Linked DNA regions of Homo sapiens. The protein of the gene in region 2 interacts with the protein of the main gene of each other region in a biochemical or structural test. Each region holds a gene or a part of one and is shown on either strand. Other genes may lie near its edges.

Region 1 (7,031 bases), on a different chromosome or scaffold from region 2:
CGACTCCCTGCAGGACTATCCCTTTGAGGACTGGCAGCTGCCTGGCAAGAACCTGCTCCAGCTCTGCCCCCAAAGCCTCGAGGCTCTGGCTGTGCGGTCTCTGGGACACCAGGAGCTCATCCTGGGCGGGGTGGAACAGCTCCAGGCCCTGGTGAGTGAATGCTGGTCACACTGGCTGCAGCTTCCACCAACCTGGGGGGTGTGATGGGGGGCTGGCTGCTGCCAGGGAGGTGACTTGCCCTCTTTCTGGCACAGAGCTCCAGGCTACAGACAGAGAACCTGCAAAGCCTGACAGAGGGACTTCTGGGGGCAACCCATGACTTCCAGAGCATAGTCCAAGGCTGCCTGGGGGACTGTGCCAAGACCCCTATTGATGTCCTCTGTGCAGCTGTGGAGCTGTTGCATGAAGCTGACGCCCTCCTCTTCTGGCTCAGCAGGTACCCGGGTTGGGGTGACGAGTGAGGGACTATTGTCATCCTTGGCCTCCTTCAGGGCGTGGGAGAGAAAAACAGATCTTGGCTCTTGTTCAGATATGGTGAGCCAGGCGTGGTGGCTTAGGTCTGTAATCCCAGCACTTTGGGAGGCCGAAGCGGGCAGATCACTTGAGGTCAGGAGTTGGAGACCAGCCTGGCCAACATGGTGAAACCCCATCTTTACCAAAAATATACAAAATTAGCCAGGTGTGGTGGTGCGCACCTGTAATCCCAGCTACTGGGGAGGCTGAGGCAGGAGAATCACTCAAACCTGGGAGGTGGAAGTTCCAGTGAGCCGAGATCATGCCACTGTACTCCAGCCTGGGCGACAGAGTGAGACTCCCTCTCAAAAAAAAAAAAAAAAAAAAAAAAGATATGGTGGAGCAGGGCAGAGGGATTAATCCACCTGTGCAGGGGCACTGGGATGCCAGAGTTCCCACCCCACCCTCCAGCTTGTAATAATCGATCTCATCAACAACCACTGAATGGAGAGCCTCCCCAACCCTGTGCACTGGCTGCTGCTTGTCCTACAGACCCCACCTCAAATGTCATCTCGGGGAAGCCTTCCCTGTTGTACACTCTCCAAGCTATACTATTAATAAATAATAAATAATAACTTATTATAAACTCATTATCCAATGTTTCATGATACTCATTACAGCCAAAGTTAAATTGATATTGATGTATGATGTCTTTACTGTCTGTTTCCCCAGTGCCTAGAACAGGGCTTGGCATGTGGTAGGCACATGACAAATAAGTCCTGTGCTAATCTCTTTAGATGTCTCAATCATCTCCTTTACTCTAAACCAAAACCCATCAGAGCAGGTATTATCCCCAAGTCTCTGAGGTGAGTAATTGGTGAGTAATTGGCTCTGAGTGGTTAAGCATAGTCCCTTAACCACTGTGCTATTCTTCCCCTGCCAGGTACCTCTTCTCCCACTTAAATGATTTCTCAGCATGCCAGGAGATCCGAGACTTGTTGGAGGAGCTGAGCCAGGTCTTGCATGAGGTAGGAGAACCAAGGGCCAGGCTTGGCCCATGCCCTAGAGACCAAGCTGGGCTAGAGCTTTTTATAACCTGTGAATCAGCCCAGGATCGAGTATGAGGATTGAGACGGGCGAGAAAGGAGGAGAGGAGGCCCTGCCACTGGGTATGGGACAATGGGGCCTGGGGTCCCCTAGCTGGCAGGGGAATTTTGACACTCAGGACAGGGAAGGAGGGGAGGGCACGTGTGGTGACTTCTGGGGGCCTGGTATCAGGGAAACGAGCCCTCTGGTTAAAACGCTGAGGCCCTGTGGTTCTGGGCAGGGGGCCAGTGTAGGGAAGGCAGGGAGGGACTGTACGGAATCCCACCCTGCCCCCAGGAGAAGGCAGTCCCCTTATGGCCCTTGCTCAGGGGAGGCCCCTGCTCTCTCATTCTACTTCCAGGATGGTCCAGCGGCTGAGAAGGAGGGCACAGTCCTGAGGATCGTGAGTCTGTGGGGTGGGAAGAGAGTGGGGGTAGGGGCGATCGGGCTCAGGCTACATAGCCCGCTCCCCTCCCCCAGTGCAGCCACGTGGCTGGGATCTGCCACAACATCCTGGTCTGCTGCCCCAAGGAGCTGCTGGAACAGAAGGCCGTGCTCGAGCAGGTGCAGCTGGACAGTCCATTGGTGAGCCCTGCCCTCCCACCTCTCACTTCTGACCCCTTGGCAGCCTTGTCTGGGCCCTGAAATAGGGTCCAGGATCCCACAGAACCCTGTGCTGCCATGGCTGGAAAGCCTTTTTTGTACAGATGCTAAAATGGAGGCCCAGAGGATTGGCCAGGGTCTCCCGTTGCTCTGCACCTCCCCAGTCCTGAGGGGCCACGCGGGTGTGGCCTCAGGTAGTGTGTTCCAGCCTTGGGATGGAGACGGGGCAGGGGCTTGGGGGCAGTTAGGAGAAAGGGAGAGGATGTGACCTTTCTTGGTTTAATCTTTGACCAGTGGGGAAGACCAGAGCCCTATCCCTGCCCTGTCCCTGCTTGTCCCTTTAGGAATGTTGCTGAGAAGCTGGTACCTCAGAAATCAGGGTCTCCAGCTTCCCTCTGGCTCTTAGCAGAGGAGAAGGCAGAGGCCCACAGGAGTAGCAAGTCCAAAGTCATACAGCAAGTCTGGGCAGGACCAGCTTGGGGTCAGCTCTTGCCACAGTTCCACCCACCATAGAGTCCTGGTGTCTGGCGGGGGTCCTGCCTATTGGCCCTGTTGCCCCCCAGCCCCCGGTGACTATAGCCTCTGCCTCTGCAGGGCCTAGAAATTCACACCACCAGCAATTGCCAGCACTTTGTGTCCCAAGTGGACACCCAGGTGAGAGCCCCACACCCTTCTCAGCCGCCCATCCCCGAGGCCTCTCACCTGCAAGCCAGGCCAACCTCAGGCCCCATTCCCCACGTCAGGTTCCCACTGACTCCCGACTGCAGATCCAGCCTGGAGACGAGGTTGTCCAGATCAACGAGCAGGTGGTGGTGCGTGAGGAGAGGGACATGGTAGGAGGTGAAGGGGTCACCGAGTGGAACCCAAGTCTGGTGGGTGGGGAGGCAACCAAGGGTTCTGACCAGGGTTGTGGGAGCTGCCTTCCAGGAGATGAGCCAGCTAAGTCTGGTGAGAGCATCCTCTGCAGAGCCCAGGTGATGGGGCCCATGGAAGCCCCCAGGAGGCTGCATGAGTGGGAGGCAGAAGTGGGAGGCTGAGAGAGAGCTCCCAGCACGAGGGTGAGAGTTGGTGGTTGCTTTAGAGCCTCCTGCCCAGGTTGATACCAGCCAGTGTTTCTGTCCCCCAGGTGGGATGGCCCCGTAAGAACATGGTGAGGGAACTGCTGCGGGAGCCAGCCGGACTCAGCTTAGTGCTGAAGAAGATCCCGATACCGGAGACCCCCCCACAGGTACCTTCCCCTGCCGCCCCCCGACCTGCCTTCAGACCCCCCCCTCCACAGGTACCTGCCCCCACCACCCCCACACCTGCCTTCAGACCCCCCCCAACAGGCACCTTCCCCTGCTGCGCCCCCCTAGCTCCCTTCAGACCCCCCCACAGGTACCTGCTCCTGCTGCTCCCCTACCCCTGTTGCCCCCCAACCTGCTTTCAGACCCCTGTCTCCATTGCTTTGTTCCTGGTTGTTCCCCAGACGCCCCCTCAGGTCCTGGACTCCCCGCACCAGAGGAGCCCATCACTGTCTCTGGCCCCACTGTCTCCCAGGTAACAGGCTCTGTCCAGGTGTGTCTTGGTGGGGAGACCGTGGGCTCATCTCATCCCCCTTGCCCTCCCCAGGGCCCCATCTGAAGACGTCTTTGCCTTTGACCTGTCTTCAAACCCCAGTCCCGGACCCAGCCCTGCCTGGACAGGTAGTCTCAAAGCTCCATGGATGCCCCGGACACGGCATCTGGGCACCCAGTTCTGACCCCAAGCCTGGGACTGGGCTCATAGACTTTCCCTCTCTCTCCTCCCTCCCTGACAGACTCTGCCTCCCTTGGCCCTGAGCCCCTGCCCATCCCCCCGGAACCCCCAGCCATACTCCCAGCAGGGGTAGCAGGGACTCCAGGGCTCCCTGAATCCCCTGACAAGGTAAGCTCAGGGGCTTAGCAAGGGGGTGGGTGGGTCTGGACCTAGATCCTTCTCTCACCCTTCTGCTGTCCTTTCAGAGTCCTGTTGGTCGGAAGAAATCAAAAGGTATGAGGTGCGCTGGACTAGGTGGGGGTTCCCCTGTTTGAGGAGCTGTTAAAAATCTTTACATGCTGGGCAAGACCACCCCCATCCTTCCCACACAGCCTCTCCTGGAAACAGCTCTGTTTCTAGGGTCAGACAGAGCTGTGCTCCCAGTCTGGGCCTCTCACCAGACTAGAGGCTAACCTGTTTGCTGTGACTGAGCAAACAGGTTAGCCTCTAGTCTTCAGTTTGCTCATCTCTAAAATAAGAAGGGTCATCCCACCTCAGAGATGACACATGTAGCATTCTGAGCAGAGTGTGGGTTCAGAGATCTCACTTGGGGATGCTTGTGGAAGGCAGGGAGTAGGTTTAGCGGGGGCACCTTGCCAGCCCCTCACTGCCCAGCTTGTGCTGTGCTGCTACAGGCCTGGCGACCCGGCTGAGCCGCCGGCGGGTGTCATGCCGTGAGCTGGGCCGGCCGGACTGTGACGGCTGGCTCCTGTTGCGAAAGGCACCGGGCGGCTTCATGGGCCCGCGCTGGCGCCGCCGCTGGTTTGTGCTCAAGGGACACACGCTCTACTGGTACCGCCAGCCCCAGGTAAGACCCCATACACAAAAACAGGTAGGCAAGTGAGTCACTTCCAGGCCTCGATTCTCATCTCTATTCTATCATCCACTCTTATTCCTGGTCCAAGGCTTTGATGTCCCCATCTGTAAAATGGGGACTTTATTCAGAGAGAAATGAGTTAATATATGTATAAAAGCAGTTTGGAAAAGGTATCATAGGAGGTATAGAGAAAAATCTTTTTTTTTTTTTTTTTGGAGACAAAGTCTCACTCTGTTGCCCAGGCCGGAGTGCAGTGGCATCATCTCGGCTCACTGCAAGCTCTACCTTCCGGGTTCACGCCATTCTCCTGCCTCAGCCTCCCGAGCAGCTGGAACTACAGGCGCCCGCCACAACGCCCAGCATATTTTTTGTGTTTTTAGTAGAGACAGGGTTTCACCGTGTTAGCCAGGATGGTCTCGATCTCCTGACCTCGTGATCCACCTGCCTCGGCCTCCCAAAGTGCTGGGATTACAGGCGTGAGCCACCACACCCGGCCCTGAAAAATCTGGGCAACATAGCAAGATGGAGTCTTGCTATGTTGCCCAGCCTTGTCTCAAACTCCTGGGCTCAAGCGTTCTGCCTGCTTCAGCCCGCCAGAATGCTGGGATTATAGGCGTGAGCCACCACATCTGGCCGAAAAATCACGTCTATTCTGCCCACTTCTCCTTATCCTTCTGATATTCTGTCCATCCGAATGATGGGCCATTCATTTACTCATTTATTCATTCAGGATTCAGGTGCCTACTGTGAACCCAGCTCTAGGCTGGGCACTATGGACACAGAGAAGAATTGGATGATTTTTGCTTCTCCAGAACTTAGAGGCTAGTAGGGGAGAGGGATGAATACACACTCAAGGACAATGTAGGGACCGTGTGCTAAGATAAAGGGAAAGCCCAAGGGATATGTGGGAGCACAGCAGAGGTGTCCAGTCCATCCTGAGGAGTCCAGATGCCCCCTGACAATGCAATACCTGGCAGTTAGTTGCATGGGAAGGGGAAAGAAAACCAGGAAGAGAAAGCAGCATTCAGAAAGCTCAGGGGTGTGAAGCAGTTTGGTTTGTGTCTACTGAAGGAACAAATGCATGAGCAAGCTCTTCTTGTTTGGTTTTTTGGTTTTTGTTTTTGAGACAGAGTCTTGCTTTGTCACCCAGGCTGGAGGGCAGTGGCATGATCTCAGCTCACTACAGCCTCAGCCTCCCAGGTTCAAGCGATCCTCCTGCCTCAGCCTCCTGAGTAGCTGGGACTACAGGCACATGCCACCATGCCTAGCTAAGTTTTTTGTTTGTTTTGTTTTGTTTGAGACGCAGTCTCGCTCTGTTGCCCAGGCTGGAGTGCAGTGGCGCAATCGCAGCTCATGGCAACCTTTTCCTCCCAGGTTCGAGCAATTCTCCTACTTCAGCCTCCCGAGTAGCTGGGATTACAGGCACCTGCCACCATGCCTGGCTAATTTTTTGTATTTTTAGTAGAGATGGGGTTTCACCATGTTGGCCAGGCTGGTCTCGAACTCCTGACCTCATGATCTGCCCGCCTCAGCCTCCCAAAGTGCTGGGATTACAGGTGTGAGCCACCACACCCGACCTAAGTTTTTAATTTTTTGTAGAAATGGGCTTTTTTCCCAGTCTGGTCTCAAACTCCTAGGCTCAAATGGTCCTCCTGCCTTGGCCTCCCAAAGTGCTGGGATTACAGGCATGAGCCACCATGCCCGGCCTTCAGGCTCCTCTTTTTTTTTTTTTTGGCTGTTTCTCTGATATCTTTGGCTCCCCTTTCCTGGCTTAGAGGCATCCTTTGGCCACATCTCCTACCCTGACCCCAGATTCCAGCCCTGAGCTCCAGAAACAGAGAGACTTGTTAGAGAGCCCAGGAGATGCCTTCTCCTCTCCACAACTCTCAGGAGCCCGAGGGGTAACTAGGAGCTGACTGGGCCTTGAGGGTATTGGGGTTCCAACCTGACCCTCATGCTGTGATCCCCCCAGGATGAGAAGGCTGAGGGCCTCATCAATGTCTCCAACTATAGTCTGGAAAGTGGACATGATCAGAAGAAGAAATAGTTAAGTCTTGGGGTGTGATGGGCTGGGGGATGGAGACAGAAAGGGAGAGGAAGGGTGATGGGGTAGCAGTGGGAGGTGTGGCAAGTGGCTGGGGCGCCCAGAATCCAGCCTCTCTGGGCTGTGGGTGGGCACGCCCAGGCTGAGTGATGCTCCTCCACTACCTGGCAGTGTGTTTCAGCTCACCCATGATGTGTACAAACCCTTCATCTTCGCTGCTGATACCCTGACAGATCTGAGCATGTGAGTGC
Region 2 (4,786 bases):
ACCCATTGTGCACTGCAGGTGGGGACCAGCCCAGGACCCTCTCCCTTGAGAGAACCGCTCCCTTGGGGCTCAGACAGTTGTGTTAGACGGGACCCTGGGAACGTACAGGGGAGGTGAAGAGGGAGAGAAGGAGGAGGTGGATGTGGAAGATAAAGGGGGGCGTGAAGCAGATTAAGAAAAGAAAGGGGATAAGGATGAAAAGATGGGAACGAAAGATGAAAAGGCAGGCCAGGAGCGGTGGCTCATGCCTGTAAATCCTAGCACTTTGGGAGGCCAAGGCGGGTGGATCACTTGAGTTCAGGAGTCTGAGAACAGCTTGGCCAACATACAAACCTTGTCTCTACTAAACATACAAAAATTAGCCGGGTGTCGTGGCGGGCACCTGTAATCCCAGCTACTCAGGAGGCTGAGGCAGGAGAATCACTTGAACCCGGGAGGCAGAGGTTGCAGTGAGCTGAGGTCGCACCACTGCACTCCAGCCTGGGTGACTCTGTCTCGATTAAAAAAAAAAGGAAAAAAAGAAAGATGAAAAGGTAAAGGCAGAGAAGGTTGAATGCAGAAGAGAAGGGAGAAAGGATGAAGCCACAGGATGGGGATGTGGCCACAGATTCTGAGAAACACTGGAGACACTTCCCTGTGCTGGAGTGCAGGGCCTCCCCCATCAACTGCTTCCCTGATATTTATTTTATTTTATTTATTTTATTTTATTTTATTATTTTATTTTATTTTATTTGAGATGGAGTCTCTCCCTGTCGCCCAGGGTGGAGTGCAATGGCGCAATCTCAGCTCACTGCAACCTCTGCCTCCCGAGTTCAAGCAATTCTCCTGTCTCAGCCTCCCGAGTAGCTGGGATTACAGCTGCTCACCACCACACCCAGCTAATTTTTGTATTTTTAGTAGAGATGGGGTTTCACCATGTTGGCCAGGCTGGTCTCGAACTCCTGACCTCGTGATCCGTCTGCCTCTGCCTCCCAAAGTGCTGAGATGACAGGCGTGAGCCACCGCACCTGACCCTTTCCTGATATTTATGCTGAAGTCCCGTAGGTCAGATTTCACCTAACGGTAACTATTAGGGAGATGAGGAAGAGTAACAGCCCCTGAGACTGGGGCTCTGGTTTCAGTCACAGTGAACATTTACACAGTTCTACTGCTCCTCATGACAGTCTCATGGCAAAAGGGTGTCCTCCCCATTTTATTTTATTTTATTTTATTTATTTATTTGTTTGTTTATTTTGGAGGCAGAGTTTCGCTCTTGTTGCCCAGGCTGGAGTGCAGTGGCATGATCTCGGCTCACTGCAACCTCTGCCTCCTGGGTTCAAGCAATTCTCCTGCCTCAGCCTCCTGAGTAGCTGGGATTACAGGCATGTGCCACCACGCCCGGCTAATTTTGTATTTTTAGTAGACACGGGGTTTCTCCATGTTGGTCAGGCTGGTCTCAAACTCCCAACCTCAAGTGATCCGACCACCTCGGCCTCCCAAAGTGCTGGGATTACAGGCGTGAACCACTGTGCCCGGCAATGTCCTCCCCATTTTAGAGCTGAGTGGATGTCATCACATCATTCCATTAGTGTGCATATCCAGAAGCATATCTAGATCAGCCAAAGCAACAGAGACACTGAAGAGATTAGTAGCTTCCAGGCCCTGGAGGGTGACAGGCAATAGGGAGAGACGGCCTAATGGGCGTGGTGTCTGCTTTAGGGGTGATGAAAGTGTTTTGCAAGTAGATAGAGGTGGGGGCTGCACAGCGTTGTGAGTGTGACAAATTGCTCACGTTCAAATAGCTATTTTTTTTTGTGGAGACAGAGTCTCGCTATGTCACCCAGGCTGGAGTGCAACGGTGCGATCTCCGCTCACTGCAACCTCCACCTCCCAAGTTCAAGCAATTCTCCTGCCTCAGCCTCTTGAGTAGCTGGGAATACAGGTGCCTGCCACCCCGCCTGGCTAATTTTGGTATTTTTAGTGGAGATGAGGTTTCTTCATGTTGGCCAGGCTGGTCTCCAACGCCTGACCTCCGGTGATCCGCCTGCTTCAGCCTCCCAAAGTGCTGGGATTACAGGCGTGAGCCAGTGCGCCCAGCTTAAAATAGCTAATTTATTTATTTATTTATTTTTGTGGGGGACGGAATCTTGCTCTGTCGCCCAGGCTGGGAGTGCAGTGATGTGATCTCGGCTCACTGCAATCTCCGCCTCCCGGGTTCAAGTGATTCCCTTGCCTCAGCCTCTCGAGTAGCTGGGACTACAGGCGCCCGCCACCACACCCGGGTAATTTTTTTTTTTTTTTGGTACTTTAGTAGAGACGGGGTTTCACCATATTGGCCAGGATGGTCTCAATCTCCTGACCTCGTGATCCACCCACCTCAGCCTCCCAAAGTGCTGGGATTACAGGCGTGAGCCACTGTGCCCAGCCTAAAATAGCTAATTTTTTCACTGGGCACAGTAGCTCATGCCTGTAATCCCAGCACTTTGGGGGGCTGAGGTGGGAGGATCACTTGAGTCCAGGAGTTTGAGACCAGCCTGGGCAACATGGCAAGACCCCGTCTCTATTAAAAAGTTAATAAGTTAGTCAGATGCAGTGGTGCATGCCTGTGATCCAAGCTACTCAGGAGGCTGAGACAGGAGGATCACTTGAGCCCAGGAGGTCAAGGGTGCAGTGAGCCGAGATCATGCCACTGCACTTCAGCCTTCGTGACAGAGAGAGATCCTGTCTCAAACAAAACAAAAGACTAATTTTTGTGTTTAAAGGAATTACTAAATGATTGGCTGGAGAGTTCCTCTTCCTGTATTTGAACCCCGGCTCTGCCACTTATTAGCTGAGTGGCCTGGGGAATGGGACTTCACCTCACTCAGCCTCCATTTCCCCATTTGTACAATGGAGCTAGTACATCCGACTTCTTAGGTTTGGGAGGAGTGAAGAAGGCCCATCAGGCACTTAGAACAGAGCCTAACAGATGGAAGGAACTCCAGGCAGTTTTGTTGTTGTTGTTGTTGTTGTTTTTGAGATGGGAGTTTTGCTCTTGTCGCCCAGGCTGGAGTGCAGTGGTGTGATCTTGGCTCACTGCAACCTCCACCTCCTGGGTTCAAGCGATTCTTCGCCTCAGCCTCCCAAGTAGCTGGGATTACAGGCATGCGCCACCATACCCGGCTAATTTTTGCATTTTTAGAAGAGACGGTTTTGCCAGGTTGGCCAGGCTGGTCTGGAACTCCTGACCTTGGGTGATCCACCGGCCTCAGCCTCCCAAAGTGCTGGGATTACAGGTGTGAGCAGGCATAGTTATTGTCATCATTCAAACACAGATCCCTCCAATCAGCCATGACCCCGGACCCTCACACTCCTGCCCCTTGGTCTGACCCTTCCCTTGTTCTGCCTAGTGCTGGCGTGGGTCGCACAGGAACCCTCATTGCCCTGGACGTCCTGCTCCGGCAGCTGCAGTCCGAGGGTCTCCTTGGGCCCTTCAGCTTTGTAAGGAAGATGAGAGAGAGTCGGCCGTTGATGGTGCAGACTGAGGTGAGGCAGTCCCTCAGCAACACAGGACGGGAGGCAGTGGGACGAGGGACCCTGGGGCTCCACGCAGCTCAGACCTGGGGGGACGCCTCTCACTCCCGTGCCTGCTTCCCAGGCTCAGTACGTATTCCTGCATCAGTGCATCCTGCGGTTCCTCCAACAGTCAGCCCAGGCCCCAGCCGAGAAGGAAGTCCCGTATGAGGATGTCGAAAACCTCATCTACGAGAACGTGGCCGCCATCCAGGCCCACAAGTTGGAGGTCTAAGTGACGAGGGGGCTGGGTCGGCAGCCCAGGCATCCTCAAGCTCTGGACACCCACTTGAGCCCAGATTCCTGGAAGAGCAGAGGGCTGGGCTCCCAGACTCCTGGGTGCTGTGGGAGGAGGGGGCTGGTATCCCAAACTCTGGTTTCCCCAGGAGAGAGTGGTCTGGTGGGCTTCAGATGAGTCCTATGGGAGCTGGGGATCTGGATTCCTGGTTCCCTGAAGGAGGAGAGGGATGATAGCTTGGATTCCCTAGGTCTTTCCAGGATGCAGAAAGAAACAGGCTGGGGCCTGGATTCTGAGGCAGGAAGGAATTTGGGTCTGGAGTTCTGGCTACTTGAGGACCAAAGGCAGGAAGGATCCTGCCTTGATTTTACTTCAGAAACCAAATCAGTCTTCTATAATCTGGGGTCGGAGGGAGTCCCTGTGCCCAAGGTCTCTCTGCACCCCACCATCCACATGTATTTTTCCTTCTATCCCATAATTTATTAAATCACTGTTCTCCCCAGAGACAGTTGTCCCATGGATTTCTGGGTCTGGAAATAATATTGGATTGGGAGTAGGGATGGGTTCCTGGTATCTAGGGATCGAGGCGAACGTCCAGGAGGGGACTAGAGGGACCCACACATTTGCACATGAAAAAATGTAGGTTTGGGTGGTTGAGTCTCTCAGAGAAGGCAGTGTCCAGACGTCTGTGTCCAGGGTCTGGGCAGTATGGACAGGGCTCGCTGGAGCTAGGTGCTTGGGGACTTGCCTTCTGAGCTTTTCTTTTACTCTTCTCTGTTGTTGTTGTTGTTGTTTTGTTCTGTTTTTGTTTTTGTTTTTGAGACATGGTCTTGCTCTGTTGCCCAGACTGGAGTGCAGTGGCTCACTGCAGCCTTGACCTCCTGGGCCCAGGTGATCTTCCCACCTCAGCCTCTAGAGTAGCTGCCATCACAAGTGCGCACCACCACGCTGGCTCATTTTTGTAGAGACGGGATTTTGCTATGTTGCCCAGGCTGGTCTCCAGCTCCTGGGCTCAAG

The links. The genes of interacting proteins can lie anywhere in the genome.
Region 1: the proteins of PTPRH (region 2) and CNKSR1 form a complex in vitro, tested with the Homo sapiens proteins (one study listed by BioGRID).

What each region holds. Positions count from the first base shown.
Region 1 is NC_000001.11:26,180,460-26,187,490, forward strand, and holds part of CNKSR1 (connector enhancer of kinase suppressor of ras 1), read left to right. Parts: coding exon 1-151; intron 152-255; coding exon 256-437; intron 438-1,397; coding exon 1,398-1,482; intron 1,483-1,901; coding exon 1,902-1,943; intron 1,944-2,020; coding exon 2,021-2,125; intron 2,126-2,737; coding exon 2,738-2,797; intron 2,798-2,886; coding exon 2,887-2,955; coding exon of another isoform or gene 2,956-2,976; intron 2,977-3,269; coding exon 3,270-3,371; intron 3,372-3,611; coding exon 3,612-3,682; intron 3,683-3,754; coding exon 3,755-3,828; intron 3,829-3,941; coding exon 3,942-4,048; intron 4,049-4,125; coding exon 4,126-4,153; intron 4,154-4,554; coding exon 4,555-4,727; intron 4,728-6,708; coding exon 6,709-6,782; intron 6,783-6,951; coding exon 6,952-7,023; intron 7,024-7,031. UniProt on the Homo sapiens protein: May function as an adapter protein or regulator of Ras signaling pathways.
Region 2 is NC_000019.10:55,180,734-55,185,519, reverse strand, and holds the end of PTPRH (receptor-type tyrosine-protein phosphatase H isoform 1 precursor), read left to right. Parts: coding exon 1-18; intron 19-3,368; coding exon 3,369-3,504; intron 3,505-3,616; coding exon 3,617-3,766; 3' UTR 3,767-4,273; downstream 4,274-4,786. UniProt on the Homo sapiens protein: Protein phosphatase that may contribute to contact inhibition of cell growth and motility by mediating the dephosphorylation of focal adhesion-associated substrates and thus negatively regulating integrin-promoted signaling processes.